Homo sapiens: one gene and its partner. The protein of the gene in region 2 purifies or fractionates together with the protein of the main gene of each other region. This does not show direct contact. Each region holds a gene or a part of one and is shown on either strand. Other genes may lie near its edges.

The links. Proteins that work in one complex are often made in the same cells at the same time.
Region 1: the proteins of PACRG (region 2) and KLHL36 purify together in Homo sapiens (affinity purification with mass spectrometry; 3 studies listed by BioGRID and IntAct, with this or other methods). This does not show direct contact.

Annotation. Positions count from the first base shown.
Region 1 is NC_000016.10:84,651,478-84,658,510, reverse strand, and holds part of KLHL36 (kelch-like protein 36), read right to left. Parts: intron 1,641-7,033; coding exon 567-1,640; intron 1-566.
Region 2 is NC_000006.12:162,730,952-162,737,984, reverse strand, and holds part of PACRG (parkin coregulated gene protein), read right to left. Parts: intron 1-7,033. UniProt on the Homo sapiens protein: Microtubule inner protein (MIP) part of the dynein-decorated doublet microtubules (DMTs) in cilia axoneme, which is required for motile cilia beating. Suppresses cell death induced by accumulation of unfolded Pael receptor (Pael-R, a substrate of Parkin).

The DNA.
Region 1 (7,033 bases), on a different chromosome or scaffold from region 2:
CAGGACACAATACATGCCCAAGGGCCAGGCGTGAGCACTAGTGGTCTCCTTAAACTATCTCCCAAAATGCTTCCAGAGGAGCCCCACAGAGACTCCAGGACCTGGGGATGTTGAACCATGGATCAAACATCTAGACCCATGCTACTGTCCAATAGGGTAGCCACGCCTCGTGCGGCCACATACACTTACACGTCAATCGGTTAAAGTGAAATAAAATTGAAAATTGACTTCTTCAGTCGCACTGGCCACATTTCAAGTGCTCAGTCGCCACATGCGGCTGTGGCTACCGTATCGGGAAGTACAGACAGACCCTTCCATCTGCACAGAAAGCCCCGCCAGGCAGTGCTGCTCTGAACGATGACGGACCCCTCGAAGGGGTGGGTCGGCTCTCCCTCTCCCTGTCCAGGATGTAGGCCCCGGGGTATTCTGCTCGTCACTTTATCATCACACCTCATTCAGAAGCAGGATAGTTGTCAAGGCCCCAGAGAGGTAAGGAAAGTCAAGGCTAGGTTAAGGAAACCGAGAGAGTCCTCAAGAGAAAAGAAATAATCTGGCTTTAATCTCACCTTGATCCACTGTTTACAGCGGGGGTCATACCTATAAAGAAGATTGGAGGCCGCATCCCCTCCGTTGTCCCGTGAGAAGCTGCCGCCGGCGATGAAGATGAAGCCCCCCAGCACCGCGACACAGTGGTGGCTCCGCCGGGCGGGCAGCGGCGTCTCTTTGACCCACTGCTCGCTCTTGGCGTCCAGGTAGCAGGTGTCGTCACTGAGCTCCAGACACCGCTCGGAGACCTCGCCGCCCACAAACAGCAGGCGCTCCTGGTTGGTGCGCAGCGCCGTGCGCTTGGTCTGCATGACGGGCTGGGCCGCCAGGTTGTTGTGGTAGCGCACGGCCTCCTCGATGAAGCCCTCGCAGTTGGCCTCCTTGGGCAGCAGCGAGCACACGGCCGGCTTGACGCGGTGCAGCAGGTCGTTCTTGGGGATGAGCGGGAAGTGGATGTTCTCCAGCACCTGGCGGGCGTGGGCCTCGCGCTCGGGCTGCTGCGTCAGCCACTGCAGGGCGGCCTGCAGGAGGTCGTGCTCACACTCCCGCTGCACCTCGCTGCTGCTCAGGTAGACACACAGCTTCTGCATGGAGACGTTCTGCAGGAAGTCGGGCGTAAAGGACAGCGTGCCGAAGTGGTTCAGGATGAAGCCATCGATGAAGGCATCAAGCCGCTTGAGGCTGTAGATGGAGGCCAGCTCCTGCAGGTACAGGTAGTTGTCCTCGCTCACCTCCTGCTCCAGGTACTCACAGCAGAAGTCTACCACCGTCCAGATCTGCAGCAGGTGAGCCGTCTCCAGGACGTAGTCAATGTTGCCGCCATCCAGCACCAGCTCCCCGCCGTACAGGAAGTCCACCACGGCCTTGAGCCCAATGTAGGAGGCGCCGATCAGCTCCACCTCCTTCTGGAAAGCTTCCCGCATGCCGATGGTGAACATGGAGTTGAAGTAGTCGCTGCACACGGCCAGCAGGTTGCGATGGGCTGGCACACGCTGCTCATCGGCCACCAGGACGACGTCGCAGAAGAGCCCGCGGAGACGCTGCTCGTTCAGCCGCTGCAGCACCGTGCTTGAGTGGTCGGCCCAGCGGTATACCTGGACAGAGAAGACACATTAGAAACGGCGCAGCAGCCTGCTCGGCCCTGGTCCAACCCAGTGGGTCCTGACCAGCATTTTCAACAAAATGAAACTGAAGAAAACAGGAAATAAAATGCTGCATCAGAGGGCACTGCAGGAAGTACAGGTGTTTCTGAGTATGCCTGTGTATCGTGGTTTTTTTTTTCCTTCTCTTATTAATATAACTTCTTTCTTTCTTTCTTTCTTTTTTTTTTTTTGACACAGAGCCTTGCTCTGTCGCCCAGGCTGGAGTGCAGTGGCACAACCTCAGCTCACTGCAACCTCTGCCTCCCGGGTTCAAGTGATTCTCCTGCCTCAGCCTCCTGAGTAGCTGGGACGACAGCCCGGCTACTGGAGTTTGAGAGCAGCCTGGCCAACATGGTGAAACCCTGTCTCTACTAAAAATACAAAATTTAGCCAGGCATGGTGGCGTGTGCCTGTAATCCTAGCTACTCAGGAGGCTGAGGCAGGAGAATTGCTTGAACCCAGGAGATGGAGGTTGCAGTGAGCCAAGAGCACACCACTACACTCCAGCCTGGGAGACAGAGCAAGAACTCCGTCTCAAAAAACAAAAAACAAACAAACAAAACAAAACAAACAAGAAAAAACAAAAAACAAACCAAAAAAACCCAAAACCAAACAACACAACAATTCAAGCCAGGCATGGTGGCTCATGCCTGTAATCTCAATGCTTTGTGAGACTGAGACGGGAGAATCACTTGAGGCCAGGAAGTTCGAGACCAACCTGGGCAACATAGCGAGATTCCTGTCTTAACAAAATATTTAAAAATTAGGTGGGCGTGGTGGCATTCGCCTGTAGTCCCAGCTGCTCAGGAGGCTGAGGCAGGAGGATCGCTCAAGCCCAGGAGCTTGAGGCTGCAGTGAGCCATGATTGTGCCACTGCACTCCAGCCTGGACGACAAAAAGAAACCCTGTCTCTAAATAAATAAATAAATGAATTCAACATAGGGAGAAACAGGTAACTGAAAACTATCACATAGATAGCTGGTCTATTCCAGGGTGACTGAGGTGAAGAACTGGCTGGGCACTAGCCTGAAGAGGGGAAATGTGGTTGGAGGAAGAAAACTGACCGAGGGCTATTAGGTATTAGCAGCTATGTGGTTCGACTTTTTTTTTTTTTTTTTTGAGACAGGGTCTCACTCTGTTGCCCAGGCTGGAGTGCAGTGGCACAATCTCGGCTCACTGCACCCTTGACCTCCTGGGCTCAAGTGATTCTCCCACCTCAGCCTCCTGAGTAGCTGGGACTACGGGTGTGTGCCACCATGCCTGGCTAATTTTAAAATTTTTTTGTAGAGACGAGGTCTCACTATGTCGCCCTTGACCTCCTGGGCTCAAGTGATTCTTCCGCCTTAGCCTCCTGAGTAACTGGGACTACAGGCACACGCTACCACGCCTGTCTGATTTTTATAATTTGCAGGGACAACGTCTCCCTAAACTGCCCAGGCTCTGAATTCTTAAAAGTTGCTTCTTAACATGTGTCCTACAGCAGTGGGTTTTATTTTTTTCTTCCCTTTCAAATCTTCTTTTTGTTGCCATACATGCGTTTGTCATTGAGACACTTTATTTCCCTGTGGTATTTCCACATCCAGTCAATTCCAACAGCAACTTCTCTGTCCATGCTACAGGAGCAGGCCACATTCTCACAGCCTGTGGAGGATGCCAGACAGATCCGACTTGGCATTTCCTTCTGAGTTCAGAGGACGGGCTCTCCCGCTCTTCCATTCCAGGCTGGCTTTTCAGTTCACAGGTCACACACGTGGAGATCTCTATTTATCCTGGTTACCCACAAAGAGAGCCAGGCTGGCCTACACCGGGCTTTTAAATTTTTTCTCATTTTTAGAAACAGGGTCTTGCTCTGTTTCCCAGGCTGGCATGCAACAGTAGATCAGAGATCACTGCGGCCTGAAACTCCTAGGCTCAGCCGGGCGTGGTGGCTCATGCCTGGAATCCCAGTACTTTGGGAGGCCGAGGTGGGCAGGTCACCTGAGGTCAGGAGTTCGAGACCAGCCTGACCAACATGGTGAAACCCCGTCTCTAGTAAAAATACAAAATTAGCTGGTTGTGGTGGCGGGCGCCTGTCATCCTAGCTACTCAGGAGGCTGACGCAGGAGAATCACTTGCACTCCGGAGGCGGAGGTTGCAGTGAGCCACTGCACTCCAGCCTGGGCAACACGAACAAAACGCCATCTCAAAAACAAAACAAAACAAAACAAAACAAAACAAAACAAAACAAAACAAAACAAAACAAAACTAGTCTCAAGCAATCCCTCCACTTCAGCTTCCTTGGCAGCTGGGACTACAGGTGTGTGCCACCATATCCAGCTATTTTTTACTTTTATTTTTTGTAGAAATGGGGTCTCACTACATTGCCCAGGCTGGTCTTCAGCTCCTGAGTTCAAACGATCCTCCTGCCTCAGCCTCCCAATGTGCTGGGATTACAGGTATAAGCCACCGTGCTAGGCCTCAGCTTCTAATTATGCAGGAATGGTCAGTGCTTCTACAGACATTGACTGGAGGCCCCTCTTGGGTGTGAGCTGAAGGAAGGAAATTAAAAAGTACTACAGTGGCGGTGATCAAGTCATAGTACAGGCTTAGCGGCCTGAGAGACGCATATGAGGGCATGAGGCGGCTATCTGCCACCCGGGGACCCTGGCTGTCTCCACGCTGGTGAGGGTGCTGGCCCTACCATGCTTAGACGGAGATACACACAACCCCAGACTGCAGTGTCAAAAGGGAAAGAGCCCAGGGGGCAGGACTGGGGAAAGCCCCAGTGAACGGCTGCCGAGGGGAGACACCAGCTCCAGTGAGCTGGGGCAGGGGGCAAGAGCAGTGTTGTTTCCAAAACTGGGTTTCTGCTCTAAGTGGGCTGGAGTGATGCTGTACCCGGGTACAATCAGCTGCAATCTGCTTCTGGTGTTTTAGCACAGCTGCATAGACAACTTTCCAAAAACACAGGCACACGAGTTCCCTTTTTTTTTTTTTTTTTTTGGATACAGAGCCTCCCTCTGTTGCCCAGGCTGGAGTGCAGTGGCTCGATCTCGGCTCACTGCAACCTCCGCCTCCCAGGTTCAGGCGATTCTCCTGCCTCAGCCTCCTGAGTAGCTGGGACTACCGGCATGTACCACCATGCCCAGCTAATTTTGTCTTTTTAGTAGAGACAGGGTTTTGCCATTTTGGCCAGGCTGGTCTTAAACTCCTGACCTCAGGTGCCACCACTCCCGGCATATATACATATATCAGTAGAGACGGGGTTTCACCATGTTGGCCTCGAACTCCTGACTTCAAGTGATCCATCCACCTCAGCCTCCCAAAGTTCTAGGATTCCAGGCGTGAGCCACTGCGCCTGGCCTATTTCCCAATTATAAAGGGACATTGGTAACAGAGTTTCCGCATTTCAGGTAACTTAGAAGCTCCAATCCACAGCATTCTCTGATGATATGAGTCTTGTTCATTTCTTTATTTCCTATTTCAGTGCCTTAATCAGATGCAAGGCCAAGTAGAGGGAGAAACTCAGGTTGTCGGGGGCTTACACCTGGGAGGAGGCGGCAGGTACCAGGTATTAGACGTGGAAAAAGAATTTAGCATCAAAAAGGAACAACACTTTTTTTTTTTGAGACAGGGTCTCGCTCTGTCACTTAGGTTGGAGTACAGTGGTGCGATCATAGCTCACTGCAACCTCTACCTCCTGGGCTCAAGTGAGCCTCCCACCTCGGCCTCCTGAGGAGCTGGGACTACAGGTGTATGCCACCAGGCTCGGCTAATTTTTGTATCTTTTGTAGAGATGAGGTTTAGCCGTGTTGTCCAAGCTGGTCTCAAACTCCGAGCTTACGAGATCCTCCCGCCTCGGCCTCCCAGGGTGCTGGGATTACAGGCGTGAGCCACTGTGCCTGGCTGAGCAACACATCTTAGGGCAGACAGGTGAACAGACACTGTGGCCACACAGTGGGAAGACACCAACATGCTGAGAAAGCAAAACCTACCACTACCAACTACATGCAGCAACACGGGTGAGGCTCAGAGGCACAATGTTGCACAAAAGAAACCACACACAAGAGTACCCGACCTCGGATCCCGTTTAGACAAAGTTCAAAAGCAGATCAAACCACAGCGGTGGGGTTGGGACAGCGACTATCTTGAGTGTAACAACTGGGAGGGTTTGGTAGTATTCTGTTTTTTACCCATCTGGGTGCTGGCAACATAGGTGTGTTTAATGTCTAGAAATTAATGGGTACACTTTTTAAAAATAAAAAGTTAGAAACAGGCCAGTCATGGTGGCTCGCGCCTGTAATCCCAGCACTTTGGGAGGCCAAGGCTGGCGGGTCACGAGGTCAAGAGATCAAGACCATCCTGGCCAACATGGTGAAACCCCGTCTCTACTAAAAATACAAAAATTAGCTGGGCATGGTGGCATGCACCTGTATTCCCAGCTCCTCAGGAGGCTGAGGTGGGAGGCTCACTTGAGCCCAGGAGGTAGAGGCTGCAGTGAGCTATGATCGCACCACTGTACTCCAACCTAAGTGACAGAGCAAGACCCTGTCTCGAAAAAAAAAAAAAGTTAGAAACATCATCCAGTGATACAGAAGCCTAGTCCTAAGAGATTCAGTTCAGACAGAAACAAACTCAGGGTCCTGGCATTAATGGACAAAGACTTCCAGTGCTGTCAAACTTAGAAAGCAGCAGTGTCTCCCAAGCTAAGCTCCCAAACAAAGCCCTTGTGAGCGAGCGGCGAGACCTCTCTGGGTTTTCACAATCGATAAAGCTGGGCTTGGCAGGAACCTTCTTGGGGAACTCACGTGAGAACAGGAGGTCATATCTCAAGAGAGCCAACCTCTCTTGAAAATGACAGCCAGTTTTTCTTTTAGAATCTGTAGAATCTCTTTCCCCCTTTTTCTCAACTCTATAGGCTGCTGCCAGCTCCCTTCATCTAAAGAAGTGTTTCTGTATCTTTTTTCATTATTGCCCCACAAGAAGGCTTTTAAGATTTTTTTCCCTAATAGCCTCCCCAGCAAAATCTTAACATCACAGATGCACTGTATGTCTGCTCATGTACTGTATGTATAATTGTGTCTTATGCATAAAAGGAGTAAAATTCCTTCCACCCTCCCGAGAACCAATTTTCTCCCACTTCAGGGCAATATCATACTCATTGAGAATCCATGATCTGAGGTAACCATAAGATTTAATCTCCAAAAGGGATACCTCTAAAGAACAGAGGGCATTACGAATATTTATAACGGGGAAACAGGTTACCAGGAACCTCATACCAATGGCTCCCCCACTCTTTACCAACAGCAGCTGTGGGGACAGGAGTTTGTGGAAAGTATAGCAGCCGGGTCTGGCTCTTGGATTTT
Region 2 (7,033 bases):
TGTAGATTTAAATTTTTCAAAATGTAGAAGAACATGATTAAAATAAAATACATGCAATTCAGTGAAAACATTGGTTAGTGAGATGGCTTGGTATAAAATAAATATAAAAATATTTATTAGGAAAATGTATACCTATAAGCATGGAATGATAAATTATATTACTATAAGTGAAGACTGTTATACAATGATCATTATTTGCTAGTGAGTTATATGATCATTTCCAACTCAAAATGATGTTCGACTTTACATCTTATTAAAAGGTCATTTGGAAGATTAAACCGGTAAAATGTTAAAATTTAAAATAAACATTCTGGGAATTAACAGGATAAATTAGCCCCACCAATTTCTAAAACATATTACCAAGTTGTGGTTTAATTACCACAATAATTAAAACTGTGGACATTCGTTAAAAATTCCTCTCAAATATCTCTATTATGTAGAATTATGAAACACACAAAAAGAAAAAGAACACACAAAGCAATGGGGAATAAAATATTACATAATAAATGTCTTTGGGAAAATTGAGTAGCCATCTAGAAAATAGTTTTCTGAGATCTTCCCCATCATACTATGTACCCAGATGTTCTCAACCCCTAATTAAAGACTAATTAAATCAACCCCAGAACACTTAGAAGAATTAAATGGGAATCTTTCAAGTGATTACAATTTGCAATCTGAGAACTACAGCCTTAGATGTTTGCAACCCCCTCATTTGTATCATGAATAGGTTTCAGAGGTGCTGAGATCCTGACCCTCAACACTGGCAGATGAGGAGGTAGACAGCAGGCAAGGTCCGGGAAGTCAAAAGCCCCTTAGGCAGGCCACAGGAGGAGCTAGAATAGGCACATTCAAGCACAGCAGGTGGCAGTATTAATAAAACCTTGATTGGGGTTTTAAGATTGATAAGCTCTCTGACCCAGTACATCTACTTCAGAAATTGTATTTCAAGGAAATACTGTAAAATACAGAAAAAACTTTTTATAGAAAGATACTAATTTCAACCCTATGTATACACTAATAGTAAATACTTGAAAACAACCTAAGTGAAAGACAAAGTAAATTATGACAAATTCAAAGCATAGAATTTTATGAAGCCTTTTAAATGCTTATGAGCTTTCAACAACATGTAAAATATTAGCATATTAGAAGGAATCCATAAAATTCCATATAAGGTATTATAATTATGTACATTGCAATCTATACAAACATACAGGTAGGTATATACACTCTATATGCTCTCAAAATATATAAAATATATATGCAATCTAAATAATTTTTAACATGTATATAATGAATAGAACTTACAACATAATTATTTATGGCAAAAAAAAAAAGGCAGAAAATAAGATTGAAAACCACAGTAGCTGGGAGCCTGGTCTCTCTCAGCCTTTGCACACTCCCCTAGGTCCTTCTCAACTGTTATATTTCACCAAACATGATTCCCTTCAGGAAACTTTCCTGGACTCAGACCCTCTCAGGTCGTTCAGCTCTGTGCTCTTATCATATTACACATTTTCTCCCTGCCAACTACAAAAACGCAGCTATCTTGCTCCCATCATGAAATGAACTGAGAACAATAACTAAAATATATACAATCTACACATTTCTGTGAGCACTGTAAATTCCATTTCCAGATCAAATTGGACCACCGAAAGTCTACGTACATGTACTACAACAATTTAATATCAGGCAAAATCCAATTTGCCAAGATACATTTTAATAACGTGTACTTAGCTCTCACTGAAATCTTTTGTGGATGATATTTTCACTGCATTTCTTGCAAAAGATAAAAATGTAGATATGGTATGTTGCATGTATTTAAAATGTGACATGACCAATTTCTCAGAGAGTTCAGTGTAGAGAAAGCTTCAGTTCCCTATAGGGATTGATGGGCTTCTCCTTTTGTGATAATGAGATGTGTATAATGTTCTCCTTTCAGCAACAGATGCCAAGAAGCTCAGAATTAAATTTGAACATCCATTGATAAATATACTGACTCTTATGAATGACAAAATTGATGCTTCTTTTCTTGAGCCCAAGCTTTCTACTTTAATTACACTTTATTTTATTATTTCTCTGTTGTTTATTCTATTTCATTTCCAATCGCTCCAATTTATTTTCCAAGTCATGTGTCTTAATGTATATGTATTTCACTGTGAGCTAGTTGAAACTGGTTGAGGAAACATTATGAAGAAATACACAAGTATGTTTGAGGTAAACATTTTTCTTCACAAAGTATGTAACTTTAAAAAGAGCAATAAAAGCCATTATTGAGAATGGAAAGGAAACTCACAGAGTGGGTAACTGTAGTTGCAATACATACAATACTAGACAAGTGCCTCATATCATTTAGAATATAGATGGAAAAAAGTACTACAAATAAATAAAAAACCAAATCAAGCCAAGAGAAAAACAGTCAAAAGTCTTAAAAAGACACTTCAATAAAGAGTATATCCAAATGGACAGTAAATATATGAAGAAGTTGTTAACTTCATTAGTCACAATAAAATTAATATTCAAATGACAAGGATATAACATTACATACCTACTGGAATACTTAAAATGCAAAATAAAGAAAATATTAATTATTGGTGAGACTGTAGCACAAACAGCACTCTCATATAGCACTGGAAAGAGTTTAAATTTGAAAAATCAGTTGGGAAAACAGCTTTAGTTTAGTTACTAAAGCCAAACAAGCATGACTTAGGGTCCAGCAATTCCACTCCCAGAAATATGTCCTTGGTCATGCGTAGATACTTTCTCCAAAAAAAGTGTAAAAATTTTCCTAGCAGTGCTATTTGTAACAGTTCTAAATTGGAGGTCACACAAATACCCATCGAGGAAGCGATGGATAAATAAATTATGGTATATCCAAGAAAATACTAGACAGGGATAAACATGAAGGATTTACTTACAACTATAGTTGTATGCAATAATGTGGGTGAATCTCACAAACAGAATGTTGATGAAAGAAACTGGACACAAAACAATTACATACTTTATGATTCCATGTATAGAAGTACAAAAACAGGTGAAACTAGTCTGTTGGCCAAAGTCAGAAGAAGGTTAGCATGTGGGAATGTTGGGTAGTGACTACAAAGAGACAGATGGGGTTCTGTGGTGTTGACAATGTTTCTGGATTTGGGTGTTGGTTGTATCAGTGTGTTTGGTTTGATATTCACCAAGTGATTCACTTACAATATGTGAGAGAACTGTTGTAAGAAAAACCTAGAAATCTAGGTTCCAGTCCTTGCTCTATCCTTTAATAAGTATCTCTAAACAACCACAAAATAGTAAATTGTTTGAGATTTATACATTAAGTGGAAAAACACAGTCTACTCTGCCTTTTCATAAGATTGGTTGGAAAAGCCAAATGGAATGAAGATCACTAGCCCTATTATATATGAAAGAATAAATATATGACATTAAGTAATCAATTATTAATAAAGTTACTTGAAATAATAAAAACAGCACTGATATATTATTTAAATTGGATAGGAATTCCTAAATTTGATAGGAAGATGTTTGATATAATTTAATTTAAGTATATAAAGGGTAATGTAACAATTCTCTGGCCATTTAGGGAAAATAAGTCAAAATTTATACCTTCCAAAATCAAAATGACTTAAGGTGAAGCAAACTTTCAAAATAAAAAATTAAAAGTAAAACAGAATCCAGGAAAAAAAGACTGAATTTTTTCTCATCATCTTAGACAGGAAAAAGCTTTTCTAAGCCAAACCACTTTAACTTTTTTCAATGAACATGTGTAACTTTTATGATACTGCATAAAACAGCTGCAAATTATTCTCATTTCTAGATTTAATATCTATATAACATCATTGGCATTTTCTTTGGAGCCACTGATTTGAAGATGATTGTCTAATTATAGTATAAAATATAGTCTTTCATTAATTCAACTGATCAAAATAAGATAAATGGCAGCTACTATGTGCCATAAATTTTTCTTGAGGTGAGGATGCAGCAATGGGTGAAATAAACAAATTCCTGCCCTTCTGGGGCTTACTCTCTGGTAGAAGAAAAACACAGGCTCAACTAAATTAATATTAGAGGGAAAAATATAAAACAGGGAAGGGAGATGGGAGTGCTGGAGCAGGGATGGAAGGGATTGTTAAGGGTCTGAAGTTTAAAATAGAGTGGTCAGGAAGAGGCTCACTAAATAGCTAATTTTTAAACAGAAATTTGAAGCATCAAGAGATGAGGACACACAGGGTAAAATGCATTTCAGGCAGAGGAAACAGGAAGGGCAAAGGCGTGGCACTAACTGAGTTCCGGAGGCAGGGCCAGCAGAGTTGCATAAAGCAGCAAGGGTGGGCAGATCACACAGGGCCTTCCCAATAGAGGAAGCTTAGCTTTTACTCTGAGTGAGGCAGGGAGCCACCTGAGGGGTTGAGGTGACGAATGCCATGATTCGGCCTTCTCAAGTTTTAAAGGGAGCTTCTGGGCTCCACAATTAGAGAGGATGGCTTAAAAAAATTCAAAATAGAGACAAATAACAATTATAATAAGAAAGTAGGAGAATATGAGATAAGAAGAAAGGGTAGAATTGCTTTCCTTCATTCATCAAATATTTATTGAATACACTGTTAGGTTCTGGTTAAGATTAAAAAGTGACTTAGATGTGGATACTGCCCTCACGGAGAATTTACATAAGGAGATAAAACATGAGCAGAAATGACCATAATACAAAGTAGAACACAATGAATAAAGGATAACTTTCTATGTGGGTGACAGGAAGGGAGAATTAAAGAAGTCTTCTTAAAGCAGTTGGCATTTTGCTGGCCACAAAAATATAAGCTTCTTGACAGCATGTGTTCTGTCTTTTGCTGACTGCTAAATTCCTAGCATTTAAAACAGTGCTTTGCACATAGTCTGTGATCAATAGATATGTGTTACCTGATGATAGAATGAATTTGTATATGCAGATATGTAGGGAGAAGGGTGTTCGAGCAAAGGGAACAACATAAACAGAAACACAAAAATAAAGAATATGAGTTTATTTCCTTGGTTCAGATTGACTGAAGCAAATGAGAACAGTGGGAGATGAAATTTTAGAACACAGAATGGGATTAGATCACACAAGACCTTGCTGGCCCTGGGGAAGTATCTTGACTTTTTTTCTATAAGAATTGGGAAGCTCCAAAAGCTCTGAATAGTGATAGGAGCAGAACATTGTACCAGAAAGATTAGTGTAATTGTACTGATAATTGATTGAGGGAGTCAACCAATTGATAGGTGGATGATATTGTACAAGCCTAGACAAAAGGTGATGAGGGCACCCATTAGTTCATCGCCACTTGGTCCCTTCATCATTAGTACTTCTCTGCCAGAGACATCTGTTTATTTGTATTGTAATTATTTTACTTGTCTCTCTCCTTTTCTTCACTAATAATGTAGCACATTTAGCACTGGAGCTAGACACTTCTAATTATCCCCCAATATTCCTTGGCTACAGTAATAAAACATTGTGAGTTTGAGCCGGACACAGAGCTACCAGTTAAAGACTACATGTCCCAGCCTCTCTTGCAACTAGCTGTGGCCATAAGACTAGGTTTTGGCAATGGATTTGAGCAGGAGTGAGGATTGCTGTTTCTGGGACATGCCCTCATAGTGAAGCTGTTTGCTCTTCATTTCTTCCTGCCTCATTCTTGCAGATTGCTCCATACCCATTTTTCTCTCCTCCACCTGAAGTAGGTGTTGGAGATGATGCCCTTTTGGAACTACATAGCTTCCTTCATCCTTTTCCTGAGGAGACAGGTACGTGGGCTTGGGAGTTGCTTCATGGGTCAAGCTTTCATAGGCTTTTGCAAAAAGGGAAAATGTAGGTGTATTTATTACTAGGTTCTGGCCAGTTGGATGAGAATGAAAGTGGGGTGCTGTGTCTGGGTCATGCACATAATGGGAAGCTCTCTGCTTCCACTTTCCTCCTTCTTGAGGGCAGGTATTTGACCCTGGTGGTCTCGAGCCCCCCTTGTCTCAGGTGTCATTTTACAGGATGCAAAGAACAAACATGCTCCTATGCCCCTGCACCTGCCTCATGGGGAATGCTGCCCAACCTCCTGGGATTGCCTACAAAATTGAACTTCTATTATGAGAGAAACAACTTCCATCTTAATTAAGCTATTGTTATTTGGTCAGTGTTACAGAAGCCAAATTAATATTTTAATATATAATTTATAAATATTGATGATTACCACTACGTGTTAAATGAGCACATGATTGGTAAATATAAAACACACTATACATGTAAAGTATAGGTTGAACTATCCCTTATCTGAAATGCTTGGGACCAGAAGTGTTTTGGATTTGTTTTTGTTTTTTGTTCAAATTTGGAATACAGTCATCCCTCAGTCTCCATGAGGAATTGTTTCCAGGACCTCCTGCAGATACCAAAATCTTCAGATGCTCAAGTCCCTGATATAACATGGCGTAGTATTTGTATGTAACCTACACATTTCTACCTATATACTTTAAATCATGTCTATATTACTTATAATATCTAAAACAATATAAATGCTCCATAAATAGTTGCTATGCTCTATTGTTTAGGGAATAATGACTCAAAAAAAAAAGTCTGTACATGTTCAATACAGATAAAATTTTTATCCCAAACATTTCAATCCAAGGTTAGTTGAATCCATGGAGGCAGAATCTGTACAAAGAGCTGACTATATCTGTATTATATACTGATGGTCACGCCAGTTCTGAAAATCTGAAATCCAAAATGCTCAAAAGAGTTTTCTTTGAGTGTAATGTCAACACTCAAAAAGTTTTGTATTTTGGACCACTTCAGGTTTCAGACTTTTGGAATAGGAATACTCAACCTTTAATATTAAAAAAATTATTTATTCCATTCCCCTAAACTTTGAGCATAAAGCATCTATAGTCTTTTGAGAAGGAAAGCTGTAATAGAAAGCTTAGGCTGAACTCAACTTCTCTGTCACCATAACCCTGGGTCGATTTTCTAACTTGCTTCGTGATAAGCTTGTTCAGCACAGAAAGTATCTGACAAGAT